Linked DNA regions of Homo sapiens. The protein of the gene in region 1 interacts with the protein of each later gene in a biochemical or structural test. Each region holds a gene or a part of one and is shown on either strand. Other genes may lie near its edges.

Region 1 (7,094 bases):
CCTCTGCTTCCCAGGCTCAAGTGATCCTCCCTCCTCAGCCTCTTGCGTAGCTGGGACTGCAGGGGCATGCCACTATGCCTGGCTTTTTTTTTTTTTTTTTTTTAAGAGACAGGGTTTCACCATGTTGTCCAGGCTGGTTTTTAACTCCTGGACTCAAGAGATCCACCTACCTCGGCTTCCCAAAGTTCTGGGATTATAGGCGTGAGCCACCATGCCCAGCCAGAACCCCTAAATTCTGTTGAGCCTCCTTGTCAGTCAAAGAAGCCCTTCCTCTCCTGTCTGAGGAGGTTATGTTCCTCGTCCCTGTGAAATCTGTAATGGCCTCACCTGAGGTGGTTGCCTGGCGGGATCTGCTGATTCTTCTTAAAACCTACTGTCCACTTTGGGAGGCCGAGGCAGGTGGATCACCTGAGGTTGGGAGTTCGAGACCAGACTGACCAACATGGAGAAACCCCATCTCTACTAAAAATACAAAATTAGCCGGGCATGGTGGCGCGTGCCTGTAATCCCAGCTACTCCGGAGGCTGAGGCAGGAGAATTGCTTGAACCCGGGAGGCAGATTTGAATCTCCACAGTGGAGAGTTATGGTCCTTCAGGCAATTTCCCTACTTGTGTCAGGTTGGAGGCCGAGAGCCTCTTGAATGTTAAGGAGGCCAACCCCCTTGTCTTAGTCCATACCTGCTGCAATAACATCACCTAAAGACGGATAAAAGGATTTTGTATCCTCTTTTGGGTAGAATTAGCTTGTTCACAATTGTCCAAGGGACAGCTGCTTCATGTTAGGTAGAAGTCTGATTTTGCTCTTTAGTTTTTGTCTGGAAGTTAAATATGATTACAAGAGGTGTTCATTGATGCCATGTTGACAACCGATAGACTCTGGTACTTTTTTTGTTGCTGTTGTTAATTAGTTTTTATTTCATAATCATAAACTTAACTCTGCAATCTAGCTAGGCATGGAAAGGAACAAGGAAAACATAGAACCCAAAGGGAACTGCAGTGAGAGCACAAAGATTCTAGGATACTGCGAGCAAATGGGGTGGAGGGTGCTCTCCTGAGCTACAGAAGGAATGGTCTGGTGGTTAAGATAAAACACAAGTCAAACTTATTAGAGTTGCCCACAGTCAGCAATGGTGATCTTCTTACTGGTCTTGCCATTCCTGGACCCAAAGCACTCCATGGTCTCCACAATATTCATGCCTTCTTTCACCTTGCTGAAGACCACATGCTTGCCATCCAACCACTCAGTCTTGGCAGCACAGATGAAAAACTGGGAACTGTTTGCGTTGGGTCCAGCATTTGCCATGGACAAGATGCCAGAAACTGTATGCTTCCGGATGAAGTTCTTGTCATCAAATTTCTCCCTGTAGATGGACTTGCCACCAGTGCCATCATGGCATGTGAAGTCTCCACCCTGACACATAAACCCTGGAACAATTCTGTGAAAGCAGGAACCCTTATAGCCAAATCCTTTCTCTCCAGTGCTCAGAGCATGAAAGTTTCCTGCTGTCTTTGGAAACTTGTCTGCAAACAGCTCAAAGGAGATGCGGCCCAAGGGCTCCGTGTCAAAGAACACGGTGGGGTTGACCATGGCTGATAGCACAGGGCTCCTGGCAGCAGCGGTGCCTGCAAAGCCCAGTGGTGTTTTTTTTACCATGTCAACTTAGCTAGGCTAGAACCACATTTCCTAGATTCCTTTCCCTGCATAGTTTTGGGTTAGGGCTAGCTATAAGAGAAATGTGTGCAGTTTGGAAGGCAGAAGTGGAGCAACAGTCATTACATTCTGAAGGTCACCAGCTCCCACATGGGGTAGGAGCTGGGCCTGCAGCTCCTTCAGTTACCACTGTATCTTCTAGATCAACTTCTGTGAGTTCTGGGCCACGAGCATGTGCAGCCCCATGGTGAAGGGTACCAGCTGTTCCAGCTGAAAAAATGTGCAGCAAAGGGTCACGGTATTACCCGGTGCTGGGGGAAGGGAATAGGAAGATTCACTACAGTCATATATTTTTACATAATATTTGACTTTTTCATGACAAAGGATTTTTAAATTAGAAAAGCACCATAAAGTTGAATTAACCAAAAAAGAGAGAGAGAAAGTCCAGACCCTTCAGTGACTACCTCTGTCTACATAAGATCAGACTCCTCAGTCTGGTATGTGAGGCCCTGGACAATCAGGTGCTAGTGTACTTTTTTAACTTTATCTGTCACTACTTCCCTTCCTGTGCCCTCCACTCTGGAATTCTTCCTGGGACTGTAGGACTTTAGTTGGGCCAGAAGGGCTGGGTCTGGGATAGGGTTGCTTAGAGAGTGCCGTGATGCCGCAGCCTCAATGCTAACTTTTGTTTTTTTGTTTTTTTTTTTTTTTGAGACGGAGTCTTGCTCTGTCGCCCAGGCTGGAGTGCAGTGGCATGATCTCGGCTCACTGCAAGCTCTGCCTCCTGGGTTCACGCCATTCTCCTGCCTCAGTCTCCTCAGTAGCTGGGACTACAGGCGCCCGCCACCTCGCCCGGCTAATTTTTTGTATTTTTAGTAGAGACGGGGTTTCACCGTGTTAGCCAGGATGGTCTCGATCTCCTGACCCCGTGATCTGCCCGCCTCGGCCTCCCAAAGTGCTGGGATTACAGGCGTGAGCCACCTCGCCCGGCCAATGCTAACTTTTTTTAGGTAACATCTTCTGTAGACTTTTAGACATTATCTCATTGAGTTCTCATAGACTCTGCAAGGTAAGTATTACTCCCATCCAGAACCAGACACCTGATTTGCAGGGTCCAGTGCAAACTAAAAAAAGCGTGGCCCCTTGTTCATACATGTATTAAGAATTTCAAGCCGGGCATGGTGGCTCAGGCCTGTAATCCCAGCACATTGGGAGGCCGAGGTGGGCGGATCACCTGAGCTCAGGAGTTCGAGACCAGACTGGCCAACGTGACGAAACTCTGTCTCTACTAAAAATAGAAAACTTAGCCGGGCGTGGTTGTGCACGCCTGTAGTCCCAGCTACTCCGGGGGCTGAGACAGGAGAATCGCTTGAACCCGGGAGGCGGAGGTTGCGGTGAGCTGAGATCGCCCCACTGCACTCCAGCCTGGGCGACAGAGCAAGACTCCATCTCAAAAGAAAAAAAAAAAAAATCAAAATGACAGCAGAGCATTAAATGAAGTGTAAGGCCATGTGTGACTGTACCAGTGTGAACCTATGAGGCCAGTCCCACCCCTATCTTACATCTAGGGAACAGGTACACAGAGATGAAGTAAATTCCCAAGGTTACTTTGTCAAGAGCTTGGAAAATATAAGAGTCAGAAGTCTAACAGGTTGAATCCCTATTAAACTCTCCCCAACTAAACTACGCCCCTCCCTGTTGAGCTGAATCTAATGAAAGCTTCCTAAATGTATTAACCACACACACGCACAATCTGCTATCAGTCACTTTCAGTAGTTCATCGCTGTAACATCTCAGGAGTTCAATGTTTCAACGTGTTCTGTAGATTACTGTGATAACGCGGCAAGCTGTCGTAAGACTTCTTGCTGCACATTTCTTTTTAAAATATTCTCCAGGAGTCTGATGAAAAATACAGACATACCTATGTTTAATGTCAATGGATGGAACTTATTTTAAAAAGTACTGTAATGGCAGAAGTTGTGACACAAAGTACTGCAGTGATGTTGTAACTCCAACACCTAAATATATTATCAAGCATTCGCGTTTTGTTTTGTTTTTTAAGTGACTACTAGATACTGTGATTCACTTAAGTGAAGCGAACTGAAGCCCGTGGTCAAGGAGAGACACCTGAAGGTGAAGGGACAAAGCGAGCAGGGTAAGAGCTCGAGCCCGACCCCTCTCAAAAAATATAGACCCGGAACGCGCGCCTGCGCAGAACGAATCCTCCCGCGCACAAGCCGGGCGGAAGAGCTGGGGCGGGCAGGGGCGGGAATAAGGTTGCTAGGAGAACGCGATGACGCTACGGGCTCGGCGCTCTTCTCCACCAATGGGCGACGCGTACTTGCAGTGGCGCGCTGTGTGCGTCACGCCGACGACGCGCGAAGGGCACACATCTTAGGACCCGGAGGACGTCCGGCCTCTGTGAGCCGCAACCTTTCCAAGGGAGTGGTTGTGTGATCGCCATCTTAGGGAGTGAGTGTGGCCGGGCCTTCTCCTGTGGCGGGTGTGGGGAGCGGAGCCCAGAGCTCCTGTGGGGCCGCTGCTTTGGCGGTGGGCCCAGCCGGGAGCAGCCTCTTTCGAAGGCCGCCGTGACCTCTTCAAGGGCGTGGAGACGGGAAGGAAAAGGCCCCGGTTGGGGTTCCAGGGCGCCGGTAACGTTAACCGGCGCCTTGCCTGTCCTCTAACCGTCGCTCCCTCCTCCCCTAGAAAGATGTTCTCGTCCGTGGCGCACCTGGCGCGGGCGAACCCCTTCAACACGCCACATCTGCAGCTGGTGCACGATGGTCTCGGGGACCTCCGCAGCAGCTCCCCAGGGCCCACGGGCCAGCCCCGCCGCCCTCGCAACCTGGCAGCCGCCGCCGTGGAAGGTGAGATCAGACCCTGCCCAATACAGTCGTGTGGTCTACTTGTGGGCCGCCCAGCCTTTGAGGCCTGGACCCGGCTTGGAGGACAGGGAAGGACGAGTCCAGCCCGCTGCACCGTAGGACGGCGCCCAGTTGCTTGCCCTGGGGTATCGGCCTTTTCCACCATAGGCGGGTGTCAGATCCTTGGCCTTCCCTCAAGGGCGTGGAAGCGCTGAGGCCCTGTGTCCCTTCGTGACCTCCGTGTGCCCGAGGGAAGAGAGGCCGTGACTAGCTCTTTCTCCGCCGTGAGCTCGCTTGGTCAGCAAACTAAGTACTGGGTAAACTCTCCTCCCGAAACTACTGACCACCCACAGTTCTACTAACTATATTACCTGTCCTTTGATTTGCCCTTAGTTTTCTTAAAAATAGTCCTTTCCTAAGTTTTATATTTGTCGACGCCAGGTCAGTCATTTTTGCACTTAATTGTATATGAGATAACTAGATGTCCTGTTTTCGTGCGACTGGAGGAGGCAGCTTGCAGCCCTACATAGGCAATAGAAAGGAGATAATTGGTGGGCGTCCCTTTGGTGTGATTATCTCTTGGGATTCTTGGTGGTTGGGCCCAGCTTTAACTTAGTTGTGTGTGTTTTAAATCCTAGTGAAGTATGTACATACAGAGAAACCTGAAAACCGAATTGTAGGAGTCCTAAGAATGTTATCTACCTTGTGCCTGTAAAATCGAAAGATTTTTTTCTTTAAATCATTCATGTGCTTCTGTTGTCTTTAGTATGGATAGAGTCCTTATTTACACTATCTGTCGTTCAGTTTAAAAGTTAAAGCTAACATTATTTGTGTATTAAATGTATTTGACTGCAGGAATTTGTGCGTATCCGTTTTTATGTTACAGGAGTTCTTAAGTGGGGATAGTATTGGTTAGTGGCTGGGATAAACTTTGAAGTTGTTTGCAAGCCTTTTACATGTCGAGTGATCTTTCTGAGTTTCGTTTGTACTCTGAAGTGTGCTCTTACCAGTGGTTAATAATTTGAAGTTTGACTTTAATTGTAAAAGCCGTTAATGTAGAAAACTTTTAAAAAAATTAATATGGCAGAATACGAGCTATTAATAGTATCAGATACAGAACCCTCATAATTTTTAAATGATCTGAATTTGGCAGTGAATTTTTTTTTAAGCCACTTAATTGTGGCCAAAGCTATTCAGCTGTGATAATAGTATCTCACAGGGAAACATTTTCTTTCATTCCAGTGGCCTTAGTCATCTCTGAAGAAATACTTACTTGATTTTTTTTTTTCCAATCAAACAGAGCAGTATAGCTGTGACTATGGATCTGGCAGATTCTTTATCCTTTGTGGACTTGGAGGAATTATTAGCTGTGGCACAACACATACAGCATTGGTTCCTCTAGATCTGGTTAAATGCAGAATGCAGGTTTGTTTTGCATGCTGGACTAGAGCATATTGAAGCATGACTGACTGTTAAGTTATAAGATATAGTCATCTAACAAGCTGTGTGGAAACCTAACTGTCCAGGAGGTAAGTTTATGACCAGTAACATGAGTTTTATATTAAAATGCATGGTGTGTCTTCTCTTACTACAGAGTACAGTTGTGAATTTGGCTCCGCGAAGTATTATGCACTGTGTGGCTTTGGTGGGGTCTTAAGTTGTGGTCTGACACACACTGCTGTGGTTCCCCTGGATTTAGTGAAATGCCGTATGCAGGTTTGTATTGAGATGACAACATTGAAAGTATCTCTCATGTGACTTAACTCTAAATAAAATCTTAAATGAGAATTTGAAGACATCACAACTGCTAGAAACTTCAGTAGGAAACCACATAGAATTTCTTTAAATTGTGGGCTTTATTTTGACTAGTGTTTTAAATCCAATAAATGCCTCTATTGTTTGAGTAAATTGTTCACTTTTAGAGTCTGGCTGTAAATGGCTCTTTGCTGCTGCTCTTCACTTCTGGCCGGAGTTCTTCAAGCTTACTAGTGCCCCAAATAGTCATTTAACAAGCACCTATGTGTTGGAGTGGGTAAACAAGTCTGTGTATTATGTGAAGTAACAATGTCCTTTATCTACTAATAAGACCAAGGCAAAGAGTACATGTAGATTTATTTAAAGTGCTCTTAATATCTTAGTATGAAAATTTTGTCAGATTAGCCTCTTGTTTATTTACACAACATTTTAAAATAATTTGAATATATTTTAATTAAGATCATTGAAACAAAAACAAGACATCGAAAATTTATTTGTTCCAAACTGGATTAGAAGTCTACTTACCTAAAAGAGAAATGAATTTGAAATATTAGGAGGGAGAGGAAGGTGATGTATACCATCCCTTCTAGTACTGGCAGAAATAGATAAGCTTTTCCTCCCCCCCCATTAGTTAATGTAATGGATATGAAATGTACCTTTGCTAAAACGTGTTATGCATGTCTCTTGAAGTGAATTTAGTTTATGTGCTTTTTTTTTTTAACTTGTGTTTAGTTTGTTTAGTGTTCACAAAACTTTATGCTATAAGCTACTTAAAGAACTAGCATATGTTAGGAATACAGTTATATCTATTATCTAGACAGTAG
Region 2 (7,026 bases), on another chromosome or scaffold:
TTATATAAGTAATAGGACCTTATTTTGAAGGTTCAAACTGGAGAAAATCTTACATTGTTTATATTTTTATTTCATTTATTTCAGTTGATTTGCTTGAGATCAAGATTGCAGATACAGAATCCATATTTCGTGTATATTGCTGATATTAATCATTAAAATCGTTTTTGACAGTTTGACAGTTAAAGGCATTTCCTGTGAAATAATACTGGTATGTATTTAACCATGCAGATCCTCAGTTTGTGGTCTGCCAGCTAAAGGTGAAGATATATTCCTCCAATTCAGGACCCACACGACGGGAAGACAAGTTCATGTACTTTGAGTTCCCTCAGCCGTTACCTGTGTGTGGTGATATCAAAGTAGAGTTCTTCCACAAACAGAACAAGATGCTAAAAAAGGTTTGTACTTTACTTTCATTGGGAGAAATATCCAAAATAAGGACAGATTAAAAGCTATATTTTATTTTATGACATGTAAGGAACTATAATTTGTTTTCTATTAGATCTGCAGGTGTTTTGCTTACTCTGGCATTGGTGAGACATTATAAGGGTAAATAATCCTGTTTGAAGGAAAAGGCCTTATGGCATTGTAACATGAGAGGAATTTTTCTTAACAAGGATGGTTAACTGAGAAGAAATTAGCATGGGACCAATATTTTAAAAATTTTGGTCTATAGGTAGAAATGAGATCTGTTCTGTGGTCTTATGTAGTGACACAAACCACTTTTTCTCCATTTTGGCTTATGTTTCTTTTTCTTTCCTTTTTTTTTTTTTTCCTTTTTGTTAGAGACAGGGTCTTGTTCTATTGCCCAGGCTGAGTAGCTAAGACTACAAGCATGTGCCACCACACCCAGCTAATTTTTTTTATTTTTATTTTTGTAGGGACAGGGTCTCACTATGTTGCCCAGGCTGGTCTCAAACTCCTGGGCACAAGCAGTCCTCACGCTTTGGCATCCCAAAGAGTTGGAATTACAGGTGTGCGCCATCATGCCTGGCCTTAACGTTTCTTAAGACTTGATTATTTTCTATTTAGCTTCTGTGGATTTACTGATTAATTTTTTAACTAGGAGAGAAATCAGTATGAAGAGGAAGTAATAAAGAATGAAAACATGGTATTTAAATGTGCAGGTTTAGAAAGTTAATGAAGTTTGAATTTGATTGATCTGTATTTAGAGAAGGCAACGTCTTATTATTTTAAAACCAACTATCCGCCCTGTGCGGTGGCTCACGCCTGTAATTCCAGCACTTTGGGAGGCTGAGGTGGGCAGATCAGCTGAGGTCAGGAGTTCGAGACCAGCCTGGCCAACATGGTTAAACCCCATCTCTACTAAAAATACAAAAAAATTAGCCGGGTGTGGTGGCAGGCGCCTGTTTTCCCAGCTACTCAGGAGGCTTGAGGCAGGATAATTGCTGAACCCGAGAGGCGGAGGTTGCAGTAAGCCAAGAATGCACCATTGTACTCCAGCCTGGGCAACAAGAGTGAAACTCCATCTCAAAAAAAAAGAAAAAAAAAACAACAACTATCTTCATTTAAAATATTAAATGTGAATATTTAAAGTGAGACTAAGGTGCAACATTTTTAGATAGTAATGAAGAAAAGGACTAACTTTGTAGTGTTGCTGCCTTGTTAAACATACTAGATAGCATATTGCCAATCTTTAAACATTCTCAATGATAGGATTTATTTACTTTTTCTGATTTTTAGCTTTTCTTTTGAAAGAAAATAAGAGGAAGTTTCATTTACTGCAAAATTTTAAATGCTGCTTTGATGTATCAGTAGAGATATAATTTTCCTTTATCCAGAATCCAAGTAGCTGGAAAAAAAAATCAAAATATGCTGAACTTTTTTTTTTTTAGCCAGAAACCCATTTCCTATCGTCTGTACAAATAAAAGTTAAATATATCTCAATAACTTAGAAAAATTATTTTTTGATAATCCAGGAAGTATTAGCAACTGTTTTAAAATTAAGATAACTAGTAAGTTTTATTTAGCTTTCAAAAATAGGCATCTACATCATCATCTCTGCATACCTTTAGGAATTTCCTAATTCTTATTTCCCTTCATCTGTACTTTAACACATGCAAAATTGAAGGTTAGATTAAATATTTATGATTTATTTGTTTATCCTTGACTACATAAATTTCCATTTTATTGATTTTCCCTGCCTTATTTAAGAATATGCTATGATTAAAACACAAAAAATTTTAGTATAACCCATATATATATAGAATTCACCTTTTTGTTATTTAAATATTATTGGCTTATTTTCTTCTAAGTAAAATACAATTACTGGCTAAAATAATTGAAATAAGCAAAAAAAAAATTTTAAAGACCTTGTATACAAGATTACTTTGCCAGGTACTGTTAAAAGATGCAATGACATTTAAGACGTAACATCCTTAAGGATCTTATTTTCTGGGGGATAAAAAACTTTAAGATAAATTAGAATAAAAGATTTAAATGGCATTTTAAGGTACCAGGTACCAGATAAGATGTCACAAGGCTGTATATCATTAATTGCCAAATGATTTATACAGGCCAGATTTCTTTGTTGGTCAATAGAGGTTTAAAGTGATGAACTTCTGTTGTGTTTTTTTATTAAGAAGGTATTATCTTATTAGTAAGAAGTGATTTTTTTTAAGAACAAGCATTTTATAACATCAAAAGAAATCAGTAGTACTCTTTCCTACCCCCTCATATTTATTCTGAAAGTATTCAAGCATTATATTGTCATGTAAGAAACTGGAGCTTCTCATGTTTGTATTGCTGTAGAAGTAAACATGTATTTGCCATGCGTCATCAGGGAAGTTGCACTCACCGTCCAAGAACTTTTGTTAAAGTAAATCTTGGAATAGGTAGCTCATTTGAAATGTAGAAAAAATTAAATCCATATCTGAATTTTGTTTATATGTATGTACACGTAAACTAAAAACGTATTTAAAGCTAGTATTAGATGAGAAAAGAGGTTTTTTTACTTAAAATTTTAAGGCAAAAGTAGTTTATCTTAGATCTTGTGAGATTGTATTTTTGGTTTAAAATTTGAGAATTTGAGTGAAGAAAAATCATGTGAATGAAAATGCAACAGATAACTCAGATTGCCTTATAATAGTCTTTGTGTTTACCTTTATTCAGAATATCAAATGATAGTTTATTTTGTTGACTTTTTGCAAATGTTTAACATAGGTGACAGATTTTCTTTTTTAAAAAAATAAAACATCATTAATTAAATATGTCATTTCATTTCTTTTTCTTTTCTTTTTTTTTTTTTTTAGGACAAAATGTTTCACTTTTGGGTAAATACATTCTTCATACCAGGACCAGAGGAAACCTCAGAAAAAGTAGAAAATGGAAGTCTATGTGATCAAGAAATCGATAGCATTTGCAGTATAGAGCGTGCAGATAATGACAAGGAATATCTAGTACTTACTTTAACAAAAAATGATCTTGACAAAGCAAATAAAGACAAAGCCAACCGATACTTTTCTCCAAATTTTAAGGTCAGTTAAATTAAACATTTTGTGGGGGTTGTTGACTTGTATGTATGTGATGTGTGTTTAATTCTAGGAGTACAGCTGATGAAGAACTTGCTTGACAAGTTTTTAACTTATGTATTATTTCGAAGCAGTGTTTACGTAGCAGTAACATGAAAGTTTCTAATAAAATACCCAATGTACACAGCGTCAAAAAAGCTGCATTTTTCCTTTTCCTAATTCTTCGTTGTTTGCTGAAATCTGGGGCAAAGGTGCGGGAGGGGGCTAAATGACTGGGATATGAAGTAGGAATGGGAGAGGAAAGAAATAGATGGGAACTCAGTCATTTGGGAATGATTCATATGGAATGTTTTTACTGCTTCCACTCCTGTCTGCCTTCCAATTTATTCTCAATCCCTCAGAGTGATCTTAAAAATAGACTTGATTGTGTCACTTCTGTTTACACTTTATAAGGACCTTGTGTTTTTTTTTTTACCATGACCTACAAGGCCCAGCATAATTTAGCACAGGGCTACCTCCTACATCAGCACTAGTCACCTTCTCTCCTTGTTTCTTGAGATTCAGTCATACTGGTCTTTCTTCAGTTCTTCAAAATGCTAAGCTTCTGCCTCTTCTAGTCTTTCCAGTTATTTTCCTTCTCCCTGTACCTTTTCATCTCAGCCTTTTCCCCTGACCTTCCATAGCTATCTTCATATTTCCAGCCTTAGCTTCAATCTCATATTCTCTGAAGTCCTTTGATTGTCCTCCCGTTATTCTTTTTTTAAAAATCCTATTTCCTTATATTGTATCTTAGAATTATTTGGTTTGTTTCATTTTTGCCTATGTGTGATATATGTATTTCTACATAGGTATATATATCTACTTATAGACAAGAATTCTTCAGATTAAAAAAATCTGATTTGTAAACATTCCCAAGTGGTTGTTTACCATTTTTTTCTTCCCCCTTCCTATTTCTTATTCTACCTGATTTTCCCCTGTTCATTCACCACACTCGTTTCTTTCTCTTTTTTACTCTCTCTTAATTTTTCATTCAATTTTTATAACATGTAATAAATCTAACTGTAGCGTCTGAGTATTAAGAATATTGCTAGTAATACTTCACCTGTAATCCCAGCACTTTGGGAGGCTAAGGCAGGCGGATCACTTGAGGCCCAGGAGTTTAAGACCAGCCGGCCAATATGGCGAAACCCTATCTGCACTACAAATACAAAAATTAGCTGGGCATGGTGTCGCACACCTGTAATCCCAGCTACTTGGGAGGCTGAGGCACAAGAATTGCTTGAGCCTGTGAGATGGAGGTTGCAGTGAGCCGAGATCACACCAGTGCACGTGCACTTCAGCCTGGGCAACAGAGCAAGACTCTGTCTTAAAAAAAAAAAAAAAAAAAAAATATATACACACACACACACACACACACACACACACACACACTATTACTACCAATATACATACATATATGTATGTATGTATGTATGTATATTGGTAGTAATAGTAATACTTGGGCCCCTGCACGTTTTAAGTGAAAATAGATCTAATATTAAATGTCTTTAGCCCTTAAATTTTTTTTAAGTGTTCAGAAGTTTCCCTTTAAAAAAATTTTTAATATATAATAATTGTACATATTTATGGGATACAGAGTGATATTTTCATGTATGCAGTGTGTGATGATCAAATCAGGATAATTAGCATATGGATCACCTCAAACATTTGTCATTTCTTTGTGTTAGGAACATTCAAAATTCTGTCTTCTAGCTATTTGAAAATATACAGTAAATTATTGTTGACTAGTTACAGTTCTATAGAACACTATAATTTATTCCTCCTGTGTGTAATTTTTTATCTTTTAACCAACATCTCCCTATCCTCCCCTCCCACTCCCTTTCCCGGCCTCTAATAACCACACTCTTATGAGCTCAACTTTTTTAGCTTCCATATATGAGTGAGAACATACGGTATTTATCTTTCTGTACCTGACTTATTTTACTTAACATCATGTCCTCCGGGCTAGACATTCTCTTTAGAATCCACAGGTTTCCTTTCTTTTCTCTAAATCTGCATTTTGCTCAGCCATTAACTTTTAAAATGTCTTTTTCCCTTTAGTTTTATTGTTTTCTATTTTAATATTGCAAGATGTTTTATATTTGTGATTACAAATAAAAACTCCATTATTAGTAAACAAATACAATGTCATATAGTAGTAAGTGCTATAAAAAATAGACAGGATAGAAAGTAATCTTGGTTTGTATGTTTTTTGTTTTTTAGCAAAGATGATTAGAGAAGGCCCAACCAAGCAGATAACATTTAAGCAGAGGCCTAAATCATATAAGTGAGTTATACAAATATCTGGGAAAAGAGTTAAGAGTACAGATGCAAAAGCCCTTAGACAAGAGAATGAGCTTGGTATATCTGAAGAGTGGATAAGTCATTTTGACTGAAACAGAGTGGACAAGAAAACCAGTCCAAGTGTAAAGACACTAGTGTGTGTTCAGCATAGGAAGGATGTAATCTGAATTTTGTGTTTAATATTCCCTGTGTTCATGCTTTCAAAATACAGATGAGTGAGGAAAGTAGGGAGAAGGGGTAATAAAGGAAGCTGAGAGATCAGTTAAGAGGTACTTGAATAGTTTAGTAAAGATGAGAGAAGATGTTTGCTTCTTGTTGCCCCTCACTGCTTAGAATAGTGGCAGTGAAGGGTAACAAGAAGCTGTCAGATTAACTTAAAGAGTTTACTGATGCAGTGGATGTTGGTTGTAAGAGAAGAATTGATAATGACTCTTGGATAATAGGGGAGGGAGGGGCTGTCAATATAATATAATGAAGAAGGGATTTGAAGTCATTTCTGATTTAAATCTCACATCCACTACCTACTTTTAATAGATATGTAGCCTTTAACAAGTTCCCTAACCTTTCTGGGCCTTAGCTACCTCCCCTTGGAAATGGAAATACCTAACATGTAAGGTTGTTTTGACAGTTATTTTCACTAGGCATGTAAAGGCACTTGACTCTCTGTTATAGACCACTGTATTATGTTAATGTCCCTCTCCTTCCTCCCTTTAGGTAAAGTTTTTAGGGCTAATAAATCCCAAATATCAATGTTGATCAGTAGTTTGTGTTTGTGTAGTGTTGTTTATATCAAAAACTACATTGAAGCCGGGCACAGTGGTTCACGCCTAAAATCGCAACACTTTGGGAGGCCAAGGTGGGCCTCCCACCTTGAACTAAGGAGTTTGAGACCAGCCTGGGCAACATGGTGAAATCCCATCTCTACAAAAAATATAAAAGCTAGCTGGGTGTGGTGGCATGCACCTGTAGTCCTAGCTACTTGGGAGGCTGAGGTTGATCCTGGGAGTTTGAGCCTGCAGTGAGCTGTGAAGATGCCACTGCACTCTAGTCTGGGTGACAGAGCAAGACCCTGTCTCAAAAACACACACACACACACACACACACACAAAGAAATACATTGATTTTTCACATAGGTAGTAAGAGAAACATTCTTTTTGAACTCAGCTGTTTGTGAATTGAATTTTGTAATTCAAAT

The links. The genes of interacting proteins can lie anywhere in the genome.
Region 2: the proteins of SLC25A3 (region 1) and PTEN form a complex in vitro, tested with the Homo sapiens proteins (2 studies listed by BioGRID).

What each region holds. Positions count from the first base shown.
Region 1 is NC_000012.12:98,589,618-98,596,711, forward strand, and holds the start of SLC25A3 (solute carrier family 25 member 3 isoform b precursor), read left to right. Parts: upstream 1-4,068; 5' UTR 4,069-4,123; exon of another isoform or gene 4,124-4,357; 5' UTR 4,358-4,361; coding exon 4,362-4,518; intron 4,519-5,815; coding exon of another isoform or gene 5,816-5,940; intron 5,941-6,109; coding exon 6,110-6,231; intron 6,232-7,094. UniProt on the Homo sapiens protein: Inorganic ion transporter that transports phosphate or copper ions across the mitochondrial inner membrane into the matrix compartment. Mediates proton-coupled symport of phosphate ions necessary for mitochondrial oxidative phosphorylation of ADP to ATP.
Region 2 is NC_000010.11:87,957,625-87,964,650, forward strand, and holds part of PTEN (phosphatidylinositol 3,4,5-trisphosphate 3-phosphatase and dual-specificity protein phosphatase PTEN), read left to right. Parts: intron 1-228; coding exon 229-395; intron 396-3,269; coding exon 3,270-3,494; intron 3,495-7,026. UniProt on the Homo sapiens protein: Dual-specificity protein phosphatase, dephosphorylating tyrosine-, serine- and threonine-phosphorylated proteins.